Regions from separate parts of the Homo sapiens genome. Here regions 2 and 3 are each linked to region 1. Evidence: fine-mapped expression QTL. A gene starts in region 1. Each other region holds a variant in brackets. All regions are shown on one strand. Distances are between the middles of the regions. Region 1 holds the start of NAPA-AS1 (NAPA antisense RNA 1). Region 2 has its middle 7.8 kb from the start of ZNF541. Region 3 overlaps NAPA (NSF attachment protein alpha).

What was found.
Region 2: its variant is fine-mapped to the expression of NAPA-AS1 in cerebellar hemisphere (GTEx, PIP 0.94).
Region 3: its variant is fine-mapped to the expression of NAPA-AS1 in cerebellum (GTEx, PIP above 0.99).

Annotation. Positions count from the first base shown.
Region 1 is chr19:47,481,923-47,486,096 of GRCh38, forward strand. It overlaps NAPA-AS1 (NAPA antisense RNA 1), which reads left to right and starts at 2,360. Exons shown (of 4, transcript NR_038452.1): 1 at 2,360-2,602. It overlaps KPTN (kaptin, actin binding protein), which reads right to left and starts at 2,297. Exons shown (of 12, transcript NM_007059.4): 1 at 2,013-2,297; 2 at 1,580-1,662; 3 at 1,373-1,457; 4 at 1,239-1,293. The coding sequence starts at 2,238. It also overlaps a transcript of NAPA not described here. RefSeq lists enhancers at 2,222-2,511, 2,542-2,671.
Region 2 is chr19:47,578,865-47,583,077 of GRCh38, forward strand. It overlaps the pseudogene RN7SL322P. Among named protein-coding and RNA genes, the nearest start is that of ZNF541, 7.8 kb to the left of the region's middle. The variant C/T (reference allele first, on the strand shown) is at 2,536.
Region 3 is chr19:47,502,796-47,507,008 of GRCh38, forward strand. It overlaps NAPA (NSF attachment protein alpha), which reads right to left. Exons shown (of 11, transcript NM_003827.4): 2 at 628-707. Among named protein-coding and RNA genes, the nearest start is that of NAPA, 10 kb to the right of the region's middle. The variant T/C (reference allele first, on the strand shown) is at 2,351.

The DNA of each region.
Region 1 (4,174 bases):
ATGTCAGGACTTTATCATTACAGAACCTCAGAAGATTCTGGCTTCTATCGTACTGTAGAATATTCAAATGTTGGAATCTTAGAGCCTACGACTCTAGAAAACTTAGCATCTCTGATCTTGGAATGTCAGACTCTAGAACATTAGAATCTGGGAATTCTAGATGTGCAGAATTCCCAGAATTCACAGGTGCTCCATCAACTCTCTCAGATTATCTAGTTCAGGAATGGCAGTGTGGTGGCCCCTTGGCCATCCGGTCCATGGCCACCTTAAAAGCATGATGCTCCGGCCAGGCGTGGTGGCTCACGCCTGTAATCCCAGCACTTTGGGAGGCCAAGGCGGGCGGATCACCTGAGGTCAGGAGTTCGAGACTAGCCTGGCCAACATGGCAAAAACCTATCTATACTAAAAATACAAAAATTAGCCGGGCATGGTGGTGTGAGCCTGTAATCCTAGCTACTCAGGAGGCTGAGGCAGTAGAATCACTTGAACCAGGGAGGTAGAGGTTGCAGAGATCGAGCCACTGCACTCCAGCCTGGCAACAGAGCGAGCATCTATCTCAAAAAAAAAAAAAAAGAAAGAAAAAAAAAGTGCAATGCTTTAAAAAACAAATGTAGAATCTGATTGTCTATGGACAAGTTCGTGGTCTCCAGTTAGCTACAGCTTTCCAACCTCAGCTGCATATGTGTGTGTGCACATGTGCTCCCTGTTATATTACATTTGTGCTTTCCATTCTCACATGACCTCTCTGGTCCCCAAAGGCATTTTAGTTTAATTTCATTTTATTTTATTTATTTATTTTTGAGACAGAGTTTCGCTCTTGTCACCCAGGTTGGAGTGCTGTGGTGCAATCTTGGCTCACTGCAACCTCCGCCTCCCGGGTTCAAGTGATTCTCCTGCCTCAGCCTCCTGAGTAGGCTGGGATTACAGGCACACACCACCATGCCCAGCTAATTTTTGTATTTTTAGTAGAGACGGGGTTTCGCCATGTTGGCCAGGCTGGTCTCAAACTCCTGACCTCAGGTGATCCGTCTGCCTCAGCCTCTCAAAGTGCTGGGATTACAGGTGTGAGCCACCGTGCCCGGCTGGCATTTTAGTTTTCAATCCCTAATCTAGTACAACCTCTTTATTTTCCAGAAGGGGAAACAGACTACAGGGGTCTGTAAGTAAAGAAGGGGTTCGAGAAGCCAGGGTTTCTACATTTACAGTGGAGTGGGCGTCGATGCGCAGGGGACACTCACTCCGCATGGCACAGCTGGAACGGAGTGAACTGGAGCTCCAGGTTCAGGCAGCTCTCTGTAGGCAGGGCACAGGCAGGTTAGCATGGGGGACCTGCTGGGGACTCTCTCCCTCCTCCCGTCCACGCCTCACTCACGGGCAATAGAGTCAAGGTTGTACTCAGAGCCGGGCTCGTAGTCGCAGTAAATGTTCAGGAAGGGGCTGCCCTTGTCCCCTGAATCCTGGCGGAGGACACGGGGTTCAGGGGAGGGCAGGGGTGGCAGGAGGGATCCGGGGCGGCTCAGTGGAACTCACCATGTGTGTAAGGAGGAGGGCGAAGGGAGGTGGAGGGGGCTCTAGGTACCTTGATGAACGTGATCCCCACAACCAGACCCCGCTTGGGGGGTGACTTGTTGAAAGTGTCGATGGAGACAATCTCCGCATCCACTGGGAGGGGAGAGTTCTAAGTTCAGTGTCAGGCAGACTCATGCTTCCAATCTCCCCAACATGGTGAGCTCTGGCTACCGCAATGATCATGCCCTCTGGTCTGAGTCCTGACCACCATCACCTGATCTCTGTTCCCTGGGTACTAGGGATCCTGACCTGTAAGTCTGAAGAATCCTGAAACCCTAGGCTCATCCGGGCCCCAACTATGCCTGCCCGCTGATCCCAGTGACCCCCTTAAAACCACCTGATCCCATTCTTCCAGCACGGTGACCCGGCTCAGACAGAGCCTCAGAAGCCTTCTCAACACCACGTTCCAGGCCCCCGCCCCCCAGCACCATAGCGCCACCCACCGGGAATGTAGTTGAACTGCAGCTCCTTGGCCACTGGCCGGATTTTCTGTCGGAGGTCTTGGTAGCGGAAGCCGAGCACCTTGCCTTTAAGGGTGGCGGCCAGCAGCTCCCCGCGCCCGCCGGCGCCGCCTGCCAGCCCGTACACATTGCTCTGCGACGAGAAGCGCGTGAAGCTGTCCTCGCGCAACGGACAAGGCCCCGCGGCCACGGCCGCCTCCCCCATCATGCCCCTCAGTTAAGCACCCTCTCCGCAGCCCCCGCCCCAACCCGCACTACCCAACCTACGACTCTCTAAGCGACCTGAACCGCCGGGTGCCCGGCCGTTGCGCGGGCTGATGACGTACGGAAGCTGCCGGCGTTGCCCTCTCCCAAGATGGCGGCCAGGTCGCCTGCTCGGGCCTCCCAGGCGACTTTGCCCCACTGCGCCCGCGCTCTCTTCTCCTTTCCATTTCTGGACCAAGGGGCTGCCATAAGGAGTCTGTGACTAGAGATGGGAGGTGGTGGCCACGGCCTCTCGCTGTATGCTGTGTGGAAGGTCGAATCATCATCATCATAAAACTTAATATTGCCCTTATGTGCCAGGAACTACTGTAAGTGCATTCCATCTAATACTTTATTAAAAATTCGCAAGGGGGTGGAGGTAGGTACTTAAATCCATTTTAGAGATGAAGGAATTGAGGCACAGAGGGGTAAAGTAACTTGCCTAAGATCACACAGCTAGTAACGAGCGGTCAGTACTGGAAACCAAACAAGGTAACTCCACAGTTCACTATTTTTTTTTTTTTTTTTTTTGAGACGGAGTCTTGCTCTGTCACCCTGGAGTGCAGTGGTGCGATCTCGGCTCACTGCAACCTCTGCCTCCTGGGTTCAAGCGATTCTCCTGCCTCAGCCTCCCAGCAGCTGGGATTACAGGCGCCACCACACCTGGCTAGTTTTTCTATTTTTAGTAGAGATGGGGTTTCGCCATGTTGCCCAGGCTGGTCTGGACCTCCTGACCTCAGGTGATCCGCCCACCTCGGCCTCCCAAAGTGCTAGGATTATAGGCGTGAGCCCCCTTGCCCGGCCTATAGTTCATAATCTTAACAGTATCACCTTTAAAATAATTAATACATTCTTCTTGCCCCCAAGGAAAAATGATCCAGCTATAATAACCACCTCCTTTATCGAACACCTACTTGGTGACAGTCATGCTGGCTCTGATAATCTGATTCCTTACAACTGTTCTGCAAGGGCCTACTGTTACCCTCCCTGCCGGTTCACTTATTCAGGATTCATTGAGCTTTTACTATGTGCCCGGACGTCCTTTGCAAATCTGTCTCACTAATCTTTGCAAGAAAGAAACCTCTACAAAGAGGTTTATTATCCCAGTTTAGAGAGAATCAAATGGAGGCTCAGAAAGAGTAAGTCCACTGACTGATATGCTAGCAAGTGGTGGGGACAGGATGTAAACCAGGTGTTTCCGACTCTGGGGCCTTCAGGGGTTCCTGTCTGTGCTGCTTTGTCCCTAGAAGGCCATGGAGGTTTGGGTACTATGTGCACATCTGTGTATCATTTCCAGAAGACATGGGTTGGCCAGCTGTCCTGGACACCTCGAGCACACACAGACTGCAAGCTCCATGAAGGCAGCAGGCTGATCTCCCTTGATCACGGCCTTATCGCCTGTACCTGGAACACAAGGCCTGACACAAAGCAGGCATTCAGAAAATATGTGTCAAAAATCACAAACTATGTGCTGAGCATGTAAGAGACAGCTCTTACATGATGGAAAGTTCTCAAAGGCAGACTGGATAACGGAGGTGGCAAGGAATTTGTGATGATTCCAGATTTCTGGATGTGGAGAGTAGAAGTTCCTGGAGGGCAGTCTGGGAATGCCGTCAGTGCTGCTGTATTCCCAGGGCCTGGCATGCAGCAGGTGCTTAGTGAATATTCGCTGAGGGAGTGGCACGTGGGTCTAGTGCCACTTCAGCAGTGCGTTTCCTTCAGGCGTCTTCCCGCCCTAGTAACCTATAAGCCACATGTTGAGCGGATGAATGAAAAAATGAAGTTACAGGTTAGGAAGGAATCATCCTGTTAAGAGGTTTCCAATCCTAGCTGCACACTTGAACTGCCTATGAAGTTTTAACAAAACAAACCAAAACAGGCCGGGCCTGGTGGCTCATGCC
Region 2 (4,213 bases), 97 kb after region 1:
CTCAGCTTGCTGTAAGCTCCGCCTCCCGGGTTCACGCCATTCTCCTGCCTCAGCCTCCCGAGTAGCTGGGACTACAGGCGCCCGACACCACGCCCAGCTAATTTTTGTATTTTTAGTAGATGGGGTTTCACCGTGTTAGTCAAGATGGTCTCGATCTCCTGACCTCGTGATCTGCCGGCCTCGGCCTCCCAAATGCTGGGATTACAGGCGTGAGCCACCACGCCCAGCCTTTTTTTTTTTTGAGATGGAGTCTGGCTCTGTCTCCCAGGCTGCAGTGCAATAGCATGATCTTGACTCACTGCAACCACCGCCTCCCAGGTTCTGCCTCAGCCTCCAGAGTAGCTGGGATTACAGGCGCCCGTCACCACACCCAACTAATTTTTATACTTTTAGTAGAGACGGAGTTTCACCATGTTGGCCAGGGTGGTCTAGAACTCATCCTGACCTCAGGTGATCCGCCCGCCTCAGCCTCCCAAAGTGCTGAAATTACAGGCATGAACCATTGCACCCCGCCTGTTTTGTGTGTGTGTGTTTTTTTTTTTTTTTTTTTTGAGACAGGGTCTCATTCTGTCGCCCAGGCTGCAGTGCAGTGGTGCCATCTGGGCTCACTGCAATCTCCGCCTCCCAGGTTCAAGCCATTCTCCTGCCTCACCCTCCTGAGTAGCTGGGACTACAGAAGTGCACCACCATGCCTGGCTTATACATTTTTTATTTTTTGGTAGTGACGGGGTTTCACTGTGTTAGCCAGGCTGGTCTCAAACTCCTGGCCTCAGGTGAGCCGCCTGCCTCGGCCTTCCAAAGTATGAGGATTTTAGGCATGAGCCACCGAGCCTGGCCAATGTTTTTGTAGTTTTGACAAATGTATAGTTGTGTCACTTAACAACGGAGATCTGTCTGAGAGATGTATCTTCAGGTGATTTTTTCCTTGTTGCGTGAACGTCGTAAGCTGTACAAACCCAGATGGTATAGCCTAGCACACAGCTAGGCTGTATGGTGTAGCCTATTGTTCCTAGGCTACAAACATGCAGCATGCAACTGTACTGAATACTGTAGGCAGCTGAAACACAAAGGTAAGTATTTGTGCATCAAAACATAGAAAGGTACAGTAGACCAGGCGTGGTGGCTCATGCCTGTAATCCCAGCACTTTGGAGGCCGAGGCAGGTGGATCACCTGAGGTCAGGAGTTCGACACCAGCCTGGACAACATGGTAAAACCCCATCTCTACTTAAAATACAAAAATTAGCCAGGTGTGGTGGCAGGCACCTGTAATCCCAGCTACTTGGGAGGCTGAGGCAGGAGAATCACTTGAACCTGGGAGGCGGAGGCTGCAGTGAGCCGAGACCTCGCCACTGTACTCCAGCCTAGGCGATAGAGCGAGAGTCCATCTCAAACAAAAAAGAAAAGAAAAGAAAAGAAAAAAGAAAAGGTACAGTAAAAATACAGTATTATAATCTTACAGGACCTCTGTCATATGTGTAGTTCTTATTGGCCAAAACGTTGTTATGTGGCACATGACTGTCCTGTGATAAAGTAAGATGCCAACATCAGGGAAAGGGTGAGGGGGATGTGGTAACTCTTTGTACCATCTTTCCAAGTTTCCAGTAAATTTAAAATTACTCCAAAATAAAAAGTTTAGGGTGAAAAAAGAAGGAAAGGAAATGAAAATGTCCACCTATAGGAGACTGGATAAATCGTGGTATAGTTATTCAATGGAGTATTATGCAGCAGTGAAAATGAGTCAATTTCCATTACACACAGCAACACAGATGTGCTCCCATTTACATATAACATTTCAACAGGGTGTGGTGAATCGTGTCTGTAATCCCAGCACTTTGGGAGGCCGAGCCAGGAGGCATCACTTGAGGCCAGGAGTTCAAGACCAGCCTGGACCACATGGCAAGAAAAATTAAAAATAAACTGGGCATGGTGGCGTGATCTGCCTGTAGTTCCAGCTTCTCAGGAGGCAGAGGTGAGAGGAACACTTGAGCCCTGGAGGTCGAGGTTGCAGTGAGCCATGATCCCACCGCTGCACTCCAGCCTGGGCAACACAGTGAGACTCTGTCTCAAAAATAAATATCATTTCAAAACACAGGCAAAGCTAAACAATAAGCAGTTTAGGGACATAGATAGAATTATTATTTTTTTTAAAGTAAGGGAGCCAGGCATGGTGGCACACACCTGTGGTCCCAGATACTCGGGAGGCTGAGGCAGGAGGATCACTTGGGACCAGGAGTTCTGGGCTGTAGTACACTATGCCAATGCAGGGTCCACGCTAAGTTTGGCATCAGTTTGGTGGCCTCCTGAGAGCGGGGGATCACCAGGTTGCCTAAGGAGGGGTGAACTGGCCCATGTTGGAAATGGAGCAGGTCAAAACTCCTGTGTTAATCACTGGTGGGATCATGCCTGTGCATAGCCACTGCACTCCATCCTGGGCAACATAGCAAGACCCTATCTCTTAAAAAAAGAAAAAACTAGCCAGATGTGGTGGCATGTGCCTATAGTCCCAGCTACTCAGGAGGCTGAGGTGGGAGGAT[C/T]GCATGAGCCCAGGAGTCCGAGGTTGCAGTGAACTATGATTGTACCACTGGACTCCAGCCTGGTCTACAAAATGTGACCTTATCTCTCATAAACAAAACAAAACAAAATAAAATGGAAGCCCCTGAGAAGCTAAGGGAAAAGATGCTCTTCAGAAGGAGAGGGGTACACCCTGGCCGCAGGTTCCTCTTCTCTGCCAACCTTTTCCTGTTGTCTCCATCTATTCACTTTGTTCAGCATTGCTTTCTGTGATTTGTCTTTTGAATCACGTCCTTCAAGCATTCTCACACTCCTCACTCCTCTCGGCCTCTAAAGGACTCACCTGGCCAAACTCCAGCCATCCTCTTCTCTGTGCCAGCCGAGCCCAGCAGAAGGAAACCACCCAGCCAGCCCAACGGGTTTTACCTGAATCAGAGAAATCACAGGCCTCAGACAGGCGCAGGGCACTCTCTATGTGTCTCTGGTGTGCTTACATTTCCCCCCTGCCCTCCAGCCCATGACTAGGTCCCACACTTCCCTGTGCACATAGAAGCCATCAGAAGGGAACCCCCTTGTCATCTGTCCCTGTGATTCCCTCTCTCAAGGATTGGGGTCTCCCTCCCTCCTTCCTTCCTTCCTTCTTTCCTTCCTTCCTTCCTTCCTTCCCTGCCTCCCGCCCTTCCTTCCTTCCTTCTCTCCCTCCCTCCCTGCCTTCCTTCCTTCCTTCTTCCCTTCCACCTCCCTCCTTCTCTCCCTCTTTCCTCTTCCATTGAAGTTTCTCCTCCTCTCCTCCTCCTCCCCCCTCCTCCTCTTCCTCCTCCTTTTCCTCCTCCCCTCCTCCTCCTCTTCCTCTGCCTGTCCTCCTCCTCCCCTCCTCTTCATCCTCCCCTTGTCCTCCTCCTCTTCCTTTCCCCCTCCTCCTCCTCTTCCTTCCCCCTCCTCCTCCCCTCCTCCTTCCCTCCTCTTCCTCTCCTCCTCCTCTTCCTCCTGCCCTCCCCCCTCTTTCTCCTCCCTCCTCTTCATTTCCTCCTCTTCTCCTCTTTCTCTTCCTGTCTCCTATATCATTCATCATCTCTCTCTCCTTCTGCCAAATCATGCCCATCACTATCCTCAAATGCTCCTGCCTCTTCCATTCATTTTTTAAAAAGAATTCCTCCCTTGAGGGAACCGAGAGATAAGAGAGACTGTAGCCACAAATCAACCACATGCAACCCAAGGACTTTGGATGCTGAGTCGAACAGACCAATGTTTTGTTTCGTTTTGTTTTTAAATTATCAGACAAGTAGAGAAATCTGAACTCTGACTGCCTATTCGATGATAGGAAAGAATTATGGTGCATTTTTTAGATGGATCACGGGATTGTGGTTATATTTCTATAAACAAACCTTATCTCCAGAGATATGAAATGAATAATCTGTACATGAAATGATGTGATGTCTGGGATGTGTTTTAAAACTATCTAGTGGGGTGAGGGTGGGGCCAATGAGAGACGGTAGAAATGAAACAGCATTGGCCATGAGTTGATAATTGGTGAGGCCCAGTGACCGGCATGTGGAGTTAATCATACTCTTTTATTTTTATATATATTTGAAAATGGGCTTATTTAAAAGTGATGTAAAAATTCCTCTCTTTGGCTGGCTGCAGTGGCTCACACCTGTAATCCCAGCACTTGGGGAGGCCAAGGTGGGCAGATCACCTAAG
Region 3 (4,213 bases), 21 kb after region 1:
CTCTCCTCTGTGAAGCTATCCTGCCTCACTGGGGCAGGTTAAACACTCAGGCTCTGCAGTCAGAGCCTTGGTTTCTGAATCTTGGTTCTGTCACTTACTAGTTCTGGCATCCTGGGCAAGAGACTAAGCCAAGCCTCAGTTTCCAAATCTGTAAAATAGGGATATTTATAGACTGACCCTTAGGGCTGCTGTGCTAACGCAATTAAATGATGAGCACTTAGGACTCAACAAACAGCAGCCATGATTCACGTTGTTATTGGAATCACCTGAACATCCTCCCCCAGCCTAGAATTTAGACACTGATGGAAGCACTAAGGAAGTTACCAGGAAACCTGAAGTTCTGAATTTAAGGAGGACTCTAAGAGCTCATCAATCCACATGGGTTTATCTAGGTCTAATAATCTATTTATTCCCATCCTCTCTGTCCTTTCACCAAGGCCCCATGACCCAGAGTATAAAGTAACCCAGCAGGCACAAAACAAGAGAGCAGGCCAGTGGCTTTCCGATGCCGGAGAGGGCATACAAAGAGAAAGGGCCCTCAAGGCCAACCTCTCGGGCAGGCCTGTGTGAGTGGAAGCTGAGGGAGGAGGAGAGCACCTTGGAGGAGCTCTAGCGGAGATGACATACCACTCCAGTTTTTGGCCATTTTGAACATGTTTGCTGCTCTGGCGTAGATTTCGCATGCTTCCTCTATTTTGGATGAGCCTCTGGGGAAAAAGGAAAGAAAAAAAGGAGACAATCTAGTCGGCTATCCAGGAGAAAGCAAGCATTCTGCTCCAGTGCCGGGCACAGACGTGCCCCTACCCCTCACCCTTCACCTGTGAAGCCAGCTTCCCCCAGGCCTCTTGAGTCTGTGGCCCCCGCCCCTGCATACAATGGCACACTCACTTCGGGCAGACCAGCTCCCTCCGGGAGTACTGGGGTAGATACTGGGTGCTTGCTGGGGTAGTGGGGCGAAGAGTTCCTGACCCCACCACAACCCCAGGGTCTGACAGCCTCTTCTACTTCCTGCCTGGGATACTAGGGGCCCACTGGGTCCCAGGCGCGCTACAAATCCCCTTTCCCCGGGAGACTGCAAAGCATTCTGGGGGACTAGCCCAGTTTAAGACATCGTGTTGCTTTCGCAGAGGCAGCCTTAATCCTGTGCCTTGCACTCTGTGGTTGCTCAATAAAGACCTTGCAGCCCTGGAGTGTGTCATTACCAGCTCAGGACTGGGCATATATATCACACAGCCATACAAAGAAATGGGAAGCACTATTTTAAAGTGTAGATATAAGATGTTCCCATTTGTGTTTAAAAAAAAAAGAGGGTGGGCTGGGTGTGGTGGTTCATGGCTCCTGTAATCCCAACACTTTGGGAGGCCAAGGTTGGCGGATTGCTTGAGCTCAAGAGTTCGAGACCAGCCTGGGCCACACGGCAAAACCCCAACTCTACAAAAAATACAAAAAATTAGCAGGGTGTGATGGTGCACGCCTGTAGTCCTAGCTACTAGAGAGGCTGATGTGGGAGGATCACTTGAGCCTGGGAGGCAGAGGTTGCAGTAAGCCAAGATCACACCATTGAACTCCAGCCTGGACGACGACAGAGCCAGACCTTGTCTCAAAAAAAAAAAAAAAAAAAAAAAGAGAAAGAGAGTGAAAATAATAGAAACATACATGTTTATATAAACATAGGATATTTCTGGGCAAATACACAAAAACCTAGTAACAGCATTTTTCTCTTAAGGTGAAGCCTGCAGAAGGAGGGCCAGGTGTGGGAGGCAGACTTATTCACTGGACATCCCGTATTTGTACTGTCTGAATTTTTTTTTAACTGTTTGTACATCTTTTCGAGAAAAAAAATATATACATATATACACACACGTGTACATATATACACATGTGTATATATGTGTATGTGTATATATGTGTGTATATATCTATACATTTACACATACACAGACACACACACACACATATTTTTAAGTATTAGGATTTATATTTGGCCCTGTGGTCCAGCAATGAATTACATCTCTAGCAATTTATCCTAAAAAAACTAATCAGAAAAGTTACAAGGATGTTCAGCATAGCATTATTTAAAACAGCAAAACCCCCCAAAAACTTATTGTCCAACAGTAGGGATACACTGGGAGATAGACAGGAATTTGAAAACATAAAGGGTACCCTGTTTGGGCAGCTTCACTCTGGCTTCTTGACCTCCACATGTACATAATGAGCCTCCTCTTGACTTGGGGGACCTCATTAGTACCTCAAACCCGTAAGTCCCACTGCATTCTTCTGCCCTTAATAATACAACCAGGCTTAGCCCGCGAGGTCTGTAGTCTCTGTAACTGCTCAAACTCCCAATATC[T/C]ACATAATCAGTAGAATAAAATCCACACACTCTGGAGTCCCACCAAATGGATTTCAGGGCCTCTCTTCACTGGCATAACTAGTGTTTAGTTTATTTTTAAGGAAGAGAAAAGGGAGGAGTGGGTACTTTCCCATTCAAATCATCCTCACCATCCCATCCCACACCCTGTGTCAACTGGCCCAACATTATACCTGGGAACTTGTCCACACCAACCCCAGCTGTGGAGGGGCTCAAAGGTAATTTTGGGAGCTGGGATGTGAGCATTCCTTCCCTCTGCACTGCGGATTCAGTGTGTCCAACCTGCCCATCCCTTTCAGCCACATGAAGTGCTCATTTCATCAAACCAGAGTCCCACAGCCACACACTTTGGGATTCGCTCAGTAGGGTCTGGATGGGGCCTGCAAATGAGATTTTTAACAATTGGGGTTTGGGGGGCCCAGGTAATTCAGCTGATCAGGTGAGTTTGAGAAGGAAAAATTGACTGAGACCGACTACCTGGAAAGCAGCCACCAGCGATCAGATCAGCGGCCAGGCCTGGCAATGTCAGCAGGCAAATAAATGCCCCCACGGTGGGCGGGCTGGTTGGGCCAGGGATCCTGGCCTCCTGAATCCACATCACACCAGGTAAATAATCTATTTATTCCTATCCTCTCTGTCATCTTGCCAGATGAAAAGCCTACCCTCTGCCTTCTGGGGCTGTGCTGATGCTGTCCCCCACCCTCTGCTGTCCCTGGGAAGTGGCCCTGAGCAATGTGTTCTTCCCGCACTCGCCCTGCTGCACTCTGTCTTCCCTCACCCACCTCACCTCAGCCAGCCCAACACACCTTGGGCCTTGTTTGGAGTGACTTCTTTTTTTTTTTTTTTTTTTTGAGATGGAGTTTCGCTCTTGTCGCCCAGGCTGGAGTACAGTGGCACGATCTCAGCTTACTGCAACCTCCAACTCCCGGGTTCAAGCAATTCTCCTGCCTCAGCCTCCTGAGTAGCTGGGATTACAGATGTGTGCCATCACACCCTACTAATTTTTGTATTATTAGTAGAGACAGGGTTTCACCACGTTGGCCAGGCTGGTCTCGAACTCCTGACCTCAAGTGGTCCACTCGCCTCGGCCTCCCAAAGTGCTGGGATTACAGGCATGAGCCACCGTGCCCAGCCTGGAATGACTTCTTTAGAACCCATTCCTGGCCTTGGAGAGGTAAGAAACTTTCAAAACCTTCTGGCTGAGAATCCTGAAGGGTCCTTTGGGGCCTGGCTGCAAAAAACCCTCAGAAGGACCTTCTCTGGAATGTTCTCTTAAAGGGACATTTTCAGACCTTAATCACAGGTCTGCCCACCCCACAGGTCCCCCAGCTCAGCCTTCCCTTCTTTTTGAGTGTGACTAAGTCCTATCCAGCTCCATGCACTCTCTGAAAAAGCACAGACCCTGGATGGGCAGAAATGACCCACGTCACTGAGTGGCCCACAGCGGGCAATCAACAATGAGCAGAGTCAGCCCAGCCGGGTTTATTTCAGGACGGACACAAAGCCTACCAGCTGCCCGGGCTGAAACTCTGTGATCCCAGGCTAAGCACAGCCAACCCTGCACGGGGTCAATGATTCTGTGGGGTGGAAAGGCCAGAGGGATTAACACCTGCTCAGGCCCCAGGCTTGCCTCCTTCTTCCCCTGCACCCCGCGGTCTTGCCCATTACCATGGCCAGGGGATGACAGGAGATCTCCAGGGTCCCATCCTCTTCTTTTAGAAATGGGAGTGAAGTCCCCAAAGGGGGAAAGTGACGTGCCTAGGTTCCAGTGGAAGATCCTGAAGAAGCCATTCACATACACATTTATTCACCTGGGGAACAGGTATCCGAGCATTTATTACGTGC